Homo sapiens: one gene and its partners. The protein of the gene in region 3 interacts with the protein of the main gene of each other region in a pairwise test. Each region holds a gene or a part of one and is shown on either strand. Other genes may lie near its edges.

What was found.
Region 1: the proteins of CDC7 (region 3) and IKZF4 interact in binary tests that used the Homo sapiens proteins (3 or more experiments, as listed by UniProt).
Region 2: the proteins of CDC7 (region 3) and ZBTB26 interact in binary tests that used the Homo sapiens proteins (3 or more experiments, as listed by UniProt).

The regions. Positions count from the first base shown.
Region 1 is NC_000012.12:56,034,543-56,038,194, reverse strand, and holds part of IKZF4 (zinc finger protein Eos), read right to left. Parts: intron 3,625-3,652; coding exon 2,864-3,624; 3' UTR 1-2,863. UniProt on the Homo sapiens protein: DNA-binding protein that binds to the 5'GGGAATRCC-3' Ikaros-binding sequence. Transcriptional repressor. Interacts with SPI1 and MITF to repress transcription of the CTSK and ACP5 promoters via recruitment of corepressors SIN3A and CTBP2.
Region 2 is NC_000009.12:122,929,392-122,933,143, forward strand, and holds the start of ZBTB26 (zinc finger and BTB domain-containing protein 26), read right to left. Parts: upstream 2,122-3,752; 5' UTR 2,046-2,121; intron 1,875-2,045; exon of another isoform or gene 1,673-1,874; intron 1-1,672. UniProt on the Homo sapiens protein: May be involved in transcriptional regulation.
Region 3 is NC_000001.11:91,514,271-91,517,922, reverse strand, and holds part of CDC7 (cell division cycle 7-related protein kinase), read right to left. Parts: intron 3,105-3,652; coding exon 2,926-3,104; intron 2,182-2,925; coding exon of another isoform or gene 2,172-2,181; exon of another isoform or gene 2,130-2,171; coding exon 2,047-2,129; intron 1-2,046. UniProt on the Homo sapiens protein: Kinase involved in initiation of DNA replication. Phosphorylates critical substrates that regulate the G1/S phase transition and initiation of DNA replication, such as MCM proteins and CLASPIN.

The DNA of each region.
Region 1 (3,652 bases), on a different chromosome or scaffold from region 3:
ACACCAAACATAGGCTACAAAGGAAACCCTAGGAGAGAGGGAGAAGAGAGGTGGTATTGCACTTGCTTCTGTGTTTATTTTTTCTTTTTGTTCTTCATAACTTCTGATTAAAAATATATATATATATGTATATATATATATTATGTACACAAGGAAAGAAGCTGCCAGAAGTATTACAAAATCCTATCTGCAGCTTGGACACTGACACAAAAAAACAAAGGTCTGGAAAAGTGTCTACTTAGAAATATTTTGTTGGTGGTATTGATTTTGAATAGCAATATAAAAGGAAACACCTCTTTTCTCCATGTGGGTTTCAGTGTGTGTGTATTTTTTTTTCTTTTTCTTTACTTTTTTTTTTATGCAAAAGGAGCTGGGAGAGAGCATGAGGATGTTTGAGGTTCCAGAGCTGGAAGGCTCTGAAAAGTAGGATTTTGTACCTAAGACCCTGGTTAAAGTGCAGTGATGGTCTGGAGAGAGACAGGATGCCCCCTCTCCCCTCCTTAGCACCTGGTCTTGCCCTTCCAGTCTCTGCTCTCATGGGCACAGAGTATAGCCTCAGAGCATAGTCCTTCATGTTCCGGGAGGTTACAGGTGCCACAGTTGACTGGGGAAGGGGATGGGGGCACCCTAAGGCTCTGATACCCCAGAAGGGACTAGTCCTTATGAAGTGTCACCAAATACACAGCAGACACAGAAGAGGTGGGAGGCGGTAGGTCTAACAGGAAGGGCTCAATAACCAGAATAGTTCAGGAAAAGCCCAGATATTAATCTCAGCTCTGCTGACATTCTAAAAAGGAGCTAGCACCCCAGGGTGCCGTTGAGGATTCTTCCTTTCTCTAGAGACTACTCTGCTCTGAGCTAACCTCCCCATTTTCTGCCCTTGGCAGCATCTATTTATTGCTACATTGTCAAGGAGGAACAATTGCCCCACAATGCTTCTCCCTGCCAATCTGGTTCTCTTGGGGAAACCTCAGAGTGGGGGAGAAAAAGGAGGACAAAGAGGAGAAAGTTTTTTAGGGTCTCCCTTCCCATAAGAAGGCAAGGTAGACTCCTCTCAGAGCCCTTAAGGCCCTAATCCCAGGGTCTGTTCCTTAGCCCACCCTTTACCATCCCCCCCCAAAATATCCCTGATAGGGAGTGAGAAAAGTAGGAGGTAAAAGAGCCAATAAGGAAAGGACATGTGGAAAGAAAGATGGAAGGGGAAGGAAGGGAAGAGAAAAGGAGAGAGAGAAGGACCAAGAGTTACAACTTGTGAGGTGTTGTGTTTGGTTTTTACTTTTTTTTTTCTTTAAACATAGAAAAACAGCCTTTGGTTTGAATCTCAAGGAAGCAGAGAGTGGGATGGCTGTGGCCTTGGGCAGAAAACTCTTGTAGAAAGAAACCTCCACTTGCAGTGGAGTTGTATCTCCTTCTGCCCCTTCTCACTAATCCTAGGTTACTCAAATAGCCAAGGGTCTCTGCAGTAGCCAGCAGTCCCCCCTCCTACCCTGTGTCTGGGAGCTGAGTGTAGAAGGGGGTAGTAAAGGAAGACCCCAGTTCAGTTGTACCCATCCCAGTCTTGCTGGAACAAGGGTGGAATGGGGTGAAGGGCACGTGCCCGTGCTCATGCTGGGATAATTTTTGGTTATACTGAAAATTAGAAGAGAGAAAAGAGATACCCGTTTCTCCCTGCCACTGATCCTAAGAACAGGGCCCAGGAGCCCGGGAATGAGAGGGTGAATCCTGCTGGGAGGGAGCAGCAGAAGGCAGCATGACTGAGGGGCTGAAACAACCCCTTGTCATCAGGCAGCAACCCACTAGTTTCTCATAGGATGGGGACTGAAGGAGCCCCTGAGAGCCTAGGAAGGTCACTATAGTGAAGAAGTTTGAGAGGTGGAGGAGAAAGAGAAGAATTTTGACCCACTCCTTTCCCATGCCCTGGTTCCCAATTAGGCACCTGTGGCTCCCAATCTGTCAGAGACAGAGGGTTGCAGACCTAGCCTTGGCCCCTGAGAATATAAAATTGGGGCACTCCAAGGAGAGAAAAGCCACCACTTAATAGACCGGTAGGTTGAAGGGACTAGAGCGTGTGGAGGGGTAGTTCAAGGAGAGGGACCAGATCTATCACATCCTAGAGGGAGATCCTGAATGTAGGCTTTGAGAACTCATATTACTAGGGGAATATGACCTATTACTAGGGGAATAGGACTCTCAGTCCCACAGTGCCTGGGGAGAATTTCTTCAGTCCCTCCTACTTCCAAATGAGGAAATAATTCTTCATTCATTCAAGAATAGTGCAAGCTGCCTAAAGTGAGAGGGCACAAGAGGTATGGAGTACCAGGTTGAAGAGTCCCAGAGAGGAGATATAATGCCACAGAGCTAAGGTAGGGCCGGGGGCAGGTATCAGCATCAAAACTGAAGAATTAGATAATGTAAAGGGTGAGGACTTAAAGCAAGAAGCTTGAAGTCTCTTAGTACTAAGAGGAGCTTCCTACCCCTGGGGCTGCTGGAAGATCTAAGAGAGAAAAATTGGCCTAAAGTGGAAAGGAGTTGTGGACAGGAGGGTGGGGGAGTGGCAAGTGACTGATATAAGTTAAAATTTAAAAAGGCAAAAATAAATCAACTAATTAATAAATAACTCAGTATGCTGGGATGAGAGAAGATAAAAAGGAAAAACATAAGCAAAAGATCTGTTTCATCACAATGCTTACATCGGTCAGGATAGAGGAAGAGAATAGGTGAGGAGGGGTCAGGGTCAGGTGTGAGGTCAGGTGGCCAGTAGTGAGGGCTACAAAGCAAAACTCCTTGGGAAATGGTGGGGACAGGGATCAATGCCTGTAGTCAGGGCAGTGGAGTGGTGGACTGAGGAGAGAGGGAGAGGTTGCTAGCCCACCTTATGCTCCCCCCGGACAATGTGGGAAGAGAATTCGTACCGGTCCTGGCTGTGATAACCACAGATGTTGCACTCAAAAGGGTCTCTGAAGCCATGGCAGCCCATGTGGATAGTGAACATGACGTGGTCCAGGAAGAGGATACGGCAGTGCTCACACTTGAAGGCCTTCACAGGCTCACCACTCTCGCCCACCACCCGAAGCACTTCCTTGGAGGGGCCTGGGGTGCCCCGCAATAACCCCTCCTGTGGCTTGGGGTCCTCTTTGGCGTAGGCAGGACTGTGCCGGCCCACCACAATGGTGGGAGGTGGCTGGGGTGGGGGACCCTGAGGGAGGGATACCACCCCCGCAACCCGATCTTCGTGGTTGCTTTCTGTGTCTGTGGAGTCCTGGCAGCCATTGCTGGGGGATGCCCCAGGGTCAGTCAGGGGGCCTCGGGGCCGGTAGAGGAGGGGACCTCCATCAGCCAGGTCCTCAGGTCCCTCACCTGCTTCTCGGGATCCTGGAAGCTCCAGTCGACCAGGGAGGGGCTGCATCTGGGTGTAGACAGAGCTGATGACAGGCGTGAGTTCTGAGATGCAATTGGTGGGTGGAAGGCGGAGGGGACGCAGATGCTCTGCACCCACAAAGGCCAGGGAACTTCCAAAGCCAGGCTCTAGGCTGTGGTGTGCCACCAACTCCACATCCTTTTCATAGCCACCCGAGTTCACATCATAGGGGAGGTCTGAGAGGCTGAAGCGCATCTGCTTTTCGCCTGTGGAGAACAGGAACTCAGCAGGGCT
Region 2 (3,752 bases), on a different chromosome or scaffold from region 3:
AAATGTTTCCCACTCCTTTGGCTCCTATATTCAGTCACTGCATAGAGCAGTGGGTAAAACCATGGACTCTGGAGCCGTATTTCCTAGGATCAAAACCCTGCTCAACTACTTTCTGTGTAAACTCAAACCACTCTGCTTCAATATTCCCATCTATCAATAGTAATTTATTTCATAGGGTTGTTATGGAAAATAAATGATTTAATTTTTTAAAGAGCTTAGAACAGTGTCTGGTATGTACCCTATAAGCATGTGTTAGGTATACAAATAAAGCCTGTCAATTTTCTTTGTGAAATGCTTTAAATGTGTCCTATCCTTATTCCCATTTAACACCAAACCAGCTGAGGTACCTAATATTTCATAGAGTATCACCTCATCACTGTACTAAATTGCTTTTTAAAAGGTCACTAATGACCTCTTCATAAAGAAATGCAATACTCTCCCCTCCCCCAAGTCTCCAGATGCTCTGCATGAATTGATCCAGTGGTCTCTCCTCGAAATTCCCTTCTCTTGATTTCTGGGTCTTCTTGCTTGCTGTAACCCTGCACTCCTACACTTTATTGCCTACTGCTGACTACTACTAGCTCCAATTCCTCTTTCTGCTTCATAAATGCAAGCATTACCCTCCCCCCCCAAATTTCCTTATTTTTCAAAATTCTCTTCCTGATGCCAGCTATTGCCATGGTTTCCACTTCTATGCTGATAACTCAAACTTTTACCTCTAGCTACAATGTTTAGGCTGAGCTAAAGATTTGCATTTCCAACTCCATGCTGGACAGCTCTATGTGTCTGTCTCATTAGACCTTTAATTCAACATGTCCAAAAAATGAATTCATAATCTACACTAAGCTTATGGCTTTATTTCTGATAATGGCATTACCATCCTTCAGCTCAGAGGTCTAAAACCTAAGAATTAGATTTGGTCCCTCACACTTCTTCAGCATTCAGTTAATTATGGAGTCTTGACATAATCATCTCCAGTATATTTGTCTCCTTACCAATGACACCATTATAACTTATTTCAGGAATTTTTTGCCTCTCACTAGGCTGATCCCATTACCCCTTCAAAAGAATCTCCGATAAGCGTTCCTAACTTTTAGCTAAATGTCTAAATGCAGTTAATAGAAAGTCCCTTCTCTATGGGCTTTCTACAGAACAAAATGATTTCCTGCAGTGCAAATCTGACCATATCAATATTCTGTTCCGAACTCTTCAAAAAACTACCCATCTCCTTTAGGATTACACCATTCACCATCTGGACCTCGGTCGACTTTCCCAGTCTCATATCCATTCTGTGCATAGGAGTCCCCCCATTTCCTCCTCTTCCCACACAAGTTATGCTCAGTCATTTCTCCACAGTATTGCAACTGTCTTCCCTGAAAAACTCTTCAACACTTTACTCTCTCCAAGTACAATTCAGACATCACTTTCTTTCTAAAGCCTTCTCAGCAACGGCCCCTTGAGCAATTAACACATATGTGACTGATACATACATACATATATATACACATAGGAGTACTTATTTGTTCAGATCTGGCTCCCAAACTTAATCCCGAAAACTGGAACAATATCTTGCCAATCTCCAGTGTCTGGTATAGCGCCAGTAATATAAAAGGTGCTGCGACCAGTGGCCAAATAGGGGAAAACCCCAGCAAAAGGGTAACCTAGCACTCACAGTGGTTCTCAAAGACTGGCACTGAATGCCTGGTCTTGGGCTGGCTCCCGAGGCTCGTTTTCTTAGGGCCTCACCTCTGGCACTTCTTATAAGATGCCAGAGTCAGGCCCCCAAGCCAACTGCTGGGCCCTCAGCTGGGGTCCTATGAGGCGGTCCCAGGGGCATCCTCAGGCTCCCCACTCCAGTCACAGGGAAGGGAAAGGGGCGGGGCGCAGCGTGGGCCGGGCCAAGGGCTCCTCAAGTCCCCAGGGGCCTAGGCCAGCCTCTCGGCTCCCATCCCAGTGCAGGTCCCGGTTGATCCAGGGCCCCAGGGGGGTTCCATTTTGAGACACCCCGCACCCCAGCCCGCCGCTCCGGCCGTCTCCGCACTTACAGACCCGGGGGAAGGCCGCCGTCAGGATCCGGCACCGCCAGGAGCTCCGGCCCCTCGGGGCTCCGGGAAGGGGGAGGGGCAAGGAACCCGAGCCAAAGGGGGACCCAACGGAACCGGAAGGGCAGCCCTGGCCGGACAAAGACAACTTCCAGGTCCCATGGTCCTCTCCGCCAATCGGAAGGCTCGGAGGACAACAGGGGCCCCGAGAGGGAATTTCTGCGTTGTGGGCGGGGCGCAGACGGAGGGCACCGTACTCTGGGCACTAGCTTCACTGCCTACTACCCCGAGGTGCCTTAGCTCGTAAGCGTCTGTGGCTCAGGCCCTGTGCGCCTCGCAGGGACCCGCTGCTCGGGACCCCCGTCTCAGCGGCTCTTCTGTAGCTGGGCCTAGACGGTCCGCTGCCTCCTTGGGCCTGAAGGGCTCCTCTGCACTTAAACTTTGGTAAGTCTTTTTAGCCTAGGGGTGTAGACTCGTCGCGCGGGAGCCCGAAGAGCAGAAAGCTCTCCCCTCACTTTTGGATGTGTTTTTCAGGGTTCTTGCCTTGGAGTTCTTCCTAGGGCAAACTCTTGCACTCCCATGGCTTCCGTTACCTACTTCATGCTGACCATTCACAACCCAGGCAGCTACATGGACGAGATCTCCAGCTGTCCTGATGTGAAAGTACCTTTTAATGATCTCAAGTTCATCTCATCTCCTATCCAGACCGGAAAACTTGAGGATCCTTCTAGAGTTCTTTTCCTTGCCAATCCAGTTTACTGGTTTTTGACCATTCTTTTCGTTTTTGGTGGTGGTGAGGGGCTTTTTATTGAGGTAAAACATGCGTAATGTTTATTACTTTAATCATTTGTAAGTGTAAAACTTGATGGTCTTGAACTCTGGAGTTAAAGTGATCCACCCTCCTCAGCCTCCCAAAGTGCTGGGATTACATGTGTGAGCCACTGCTCCCAGCCTTTCCCTCTTTTTAATGTAGTTATTTACAACTATACATTTCACTTTGATCACTGTTTTCACTACAGCTCATAAGTTTTTGTATGTTGTGTTATTTTCATTCATTTCTAAGTATTTTCTAATTTCCCTTTTGATTTCTTCTTCTTTTTTTTTCTTTTTTTTGAGATGGAGTTTCGCTCTTGTTGCCCAGGCTGGAGTGCAATGGTGTGATCTCGGCTCACCGCAACCTCCGCCTCCTGGGTTCAAGCGGTTCTCCTGCCTCCGTCTCTAAAGTAGCTGGGATTACAGGCATGCGCCACCACACCGGGCTAATTTGATATTTAGAGATATGGAGACGTGGTTTCTCCGTGTTGGTCAGGCTGGTGTCGAACTCCCGACCTCAGGTGATCCACCCGCCTTGGCCTCCCAAAGTGCTGGGATTACAGGTGTGAGCCACCGTGCCTGACCTTGATTTCTTCTTTGACCCAGTTGTTAAGAGTGTTGTTTAACTTTCAGATATTTGTGACTTTTCCAGTTTTCCTTCTGTTATTAATTTATAACTTCATCTGTGTGGTCCGAGAAGATACTTTGTATGATATCTATCTTGTAAAATATTATGAAACTTGAATTGTGGCATACAGTCTGGTGAATACCTCATGTGCTTTAGAGAAGAATGTGTATTCTGCTCTTGCTGGGTGGAATGTTCTGTATATGTCTTTTAAGTATAGCTGGTTTATTATGATGCTTAGTTCCTCTATTTCCTCACTTATCTTCTATCTG
Region 3 (3,652 bases):
GATTTCGCCATATTGGCCAGGCTGATCTCGAACTCCTGACCTAGTGATCTGCCTGCCTTGGCCTCCCAAAGTGCTGGTATTATAGGCATGAGCCACTGTGCCCGGCCCTACTTGCCTTTCTTAGCTCCTTTGGTACCTCTGCCTGCTCCTTCAATGTTTTCTCCAAGCCTTAAGTGCTGACGGATATTCCTCAGAGTTTTAACTTCTCCCTCTGTATACTCTCCCTGATTGGTCCATCCACTTCATGGCTTCAACTGTCATTTATATAATGATGACATTCATCTGTATTTCTAGCCCAGCTCCTTCGCTGAGCATCAGACTTAACTTTGATTCTGCTGGAAATCTCTATTTGGATGTCCCACAAATACCTCAAACCAATTATACCCCAAACTAACCTTACCTTCCCCTATAAACCAGTTACTTCTCCTTTACTCTCCACCTTGGTTACTGGTACACATCCAAGTCTCCCAAGCTAGGAATCTGGTAAACATCCTGAATGCCTTTTTCCCTCACCATACCACACCCTAATTCTACATCCAATTATCCACCAAGCTCTGCCTTTCTAACCCTTCACTTTTCTTTTCATTCCTATTACCAATACCCTCATTCACATTTTCATCCTCTCACCCGGACAAATTCATGCCACCACTCTCCAAAAGCTAATCTGTTTGCACGCCTGCCAGAATGATCCATCTAGGATATACCATTGTCACTTTTTTCACTTAACTTTCCAATATCTACAGTATATAGTCCAAACTGTAACAACTGTGGTCTGACCTTGTCTACCTCATTCCAGGTTTATCTCTCACCATTCCTCAACTTGCATCTTAATATTCTAGCAAAATTGGACTTTTTTTTTTGAGATGAAGTCTTGCTGTCGCCCAGGTTGGAGGGCAATGGTGCGATCTTGGCTCACTGCAACTTCCGCCTCCTGCGTTCAAGTGATTCTCTTGCCTCAGCCTCCTGAGTAGCTGGGATTACAGGTGCGCACCACCACACCCAGCTGATTTTTGTATTTTTAGTAGAGATGGGGTTTCACCATGTTGGTCAGGCTGGTTTCAAACTCCTGATCTCAGGTGATCCGCCCATCTCAGCCTCCGAAAGTGCTGGGATTACAGGCATGAGCCACCGCGTCTGGCCAAAATGAAACTTTTTTAGTTTCCTGTATGCTGTTTCTTGAGTTCCTTGGCTCATGCCTCTATGCTAACTTCTCAGCCCAATTTACATTCTAAGAGGTCATTTCTTTCATGAATTGCCTTTCATAATCTCTTTGGGTTAGGATAGTTAGATACTCCTTAAATACCCTGAATAAGTTTTATTACCATACTCAACAGGTTATTTTATAATTATTTGATGGTGTCCTGACTAGAGTGTGAACAGATGGTCTCATTTATTTATTTGTTATCATTAGCAAGCAAGAACAGACATTCAATGAATGAATACATTTCTTCAAAGCCCATAATCCAAGTGAATAGCAGGATTCATCTATTCATTCAAGATGTTTCCTGGATTCCAGCTCCATGGTAAGTTTTTAGATTACGGAAGACATTTTTCTTTTTCAAAACCTTCTAACTGCTATTATATTGTTTATATAATAACAAAAGTAATTTTAATCAAACACAAATATATCTACATCACAGGAAACTTTTGAGGTATTAAGCAAGCAAATAAAATGCTTTAAGTCTTTGGCTGGCAAAAACTATTAAACATAATTTTTTCCCCCACAAAGGTGATGTCAGCAAAATTCCACAGATTACATTTTGCGTATTTATTTACAAGATGGTAAGATCATCTTGTAAATAAATACGCAAAATGTAATCTATGGAATAAACTGTTTAAACAAAAAAAGAGAGGCAACATTAGGATTAAAAACTTTCATAAAGAATAGCATTAGCTCAAAAATAGGAATGCCACACTGCAAGAACTGCTTACATAATTAAAAGCAGAAGAACTCAAATATTAGTTATAAATAGACAAAGATCATAAAATAAAATACGTCTGGAACAATCCATTTTAACTAGGTTCTGTATTTCCAGTACAACATACCTGTAGTTTGATTGGGGCACTTTGTCAAGACCTCTGGTGCTCTGAATCCTGGTGTACCTGCCCTAGGGGCAACCTGCTGACGCCTTATGATGAAATAAGATTTCTCTAGTTATGTTAAAGTTGAACTATGTAAGTCTAAAAAATAACATTCATCAATTTAGTTCACAGTAAATTTTGCCTTGATACCTATATAATAAGTGTTACTATAAAGTAAATGATAATCTAGTGTGATAAAAATCCTAGATTTTTCTTCTTCTGTTTTTTACCCCCTCTACTAGTTCCCCGGACTTACTCCAGAAAGGTTTAAAATAACCTCCAAGAATAAAAAGCAGTAGTGGATAATAAGAGCCATAATAGAAAAAATAGAACCCAATAGCAATTCACAGGTATAAAAATTCATTTGTTTGGAGTAATTGATCACAGATACACTTATATATTTGAGTTAATCAAGAAAGGCTTTATGAAAGCCAAGCCTTGAAGGAAAGGAAGAAATTTATGAGTCAAAGAGTTGGAGGTGGGAGTAAAAGAGGAGCTCTACTATTTGGTTCTGGTTACTCCACATAAGCGGGAATAAAAAGAGAAAACAGAAAAGACTACATCAGCAATCAAAATGTGTGATTCTAAGCTTCTAAAAGCCACCCCGTCCCACTTATTTGCATATAAGAGCAAATGTGTTTTCCAGAGTATATCCATATTAAATAAATAATATATGAAAACTGTTATCATTTGCTCTTCAACATACTACTGCTCTGCATCAAGGCCCATTGCAGTTCACTGATCTGAACTGATCCCTTGCACTCACAAAATTATCCACCCAAGTCAATGCAATTTCTAATGGCAGCATGCTGGTGATTTTATAACACCATCAAAACACATTACCTTGAAAGGCAAATACTACAAACTTTATCTGTTGCATAGCAGTCACAGGTCAGGCTAGCTGGGCAAGAACTGGCAGTTTTCCTCATCACAGCACTATTCATAACTTTTGTAGAAATAGCCTTCTTTTTTGTTGCTAACTTTCTAGACAGTACATCCACAGTCTTTGACTGCTTCATGAGCTGTAAAAGAAAAGTCTCATTTTTCTATTTTCATGATATTAAACATGATGTCCTAAAATGCTAGTATGGCAAAAAGCAATAGCGGAAGCATAACTTTAAAAACTGCTGAATGGCTATTGGACTGTAAATAAACTGTTGTCTATTAAAATGTTTAAGGTCTTCTTGGGTTTTTCTGTAAAGTCACCTTATATTAAAATTTACTAATTAGTCCTAGCTTGGCCAATATTTGAGTTATACTTTATTAGAACTTTTCCTGATATATTACAGAAGTATAAAACAGTTATGTTCTAGTGTCTAACTCCATTTCAGAACTGTAAACTGCACAAGTACGTTGGCTAAAATCACAGTTTTAATTTGTTGCTCATGCTGTCTAGCTGTCACAAGATATCATAAGTCAATCTGAAATCATCTACATTGATGATGATTTTGTTAACTTTACAAACATCTTTACACTATCAACTATGTGTCAGAATAGTTAGCTAACTGTATGGAGCTCACACTCTAGCAATGACAGAAAGCCCTTAATGTTCTAAATGTTCCTCTAGAGA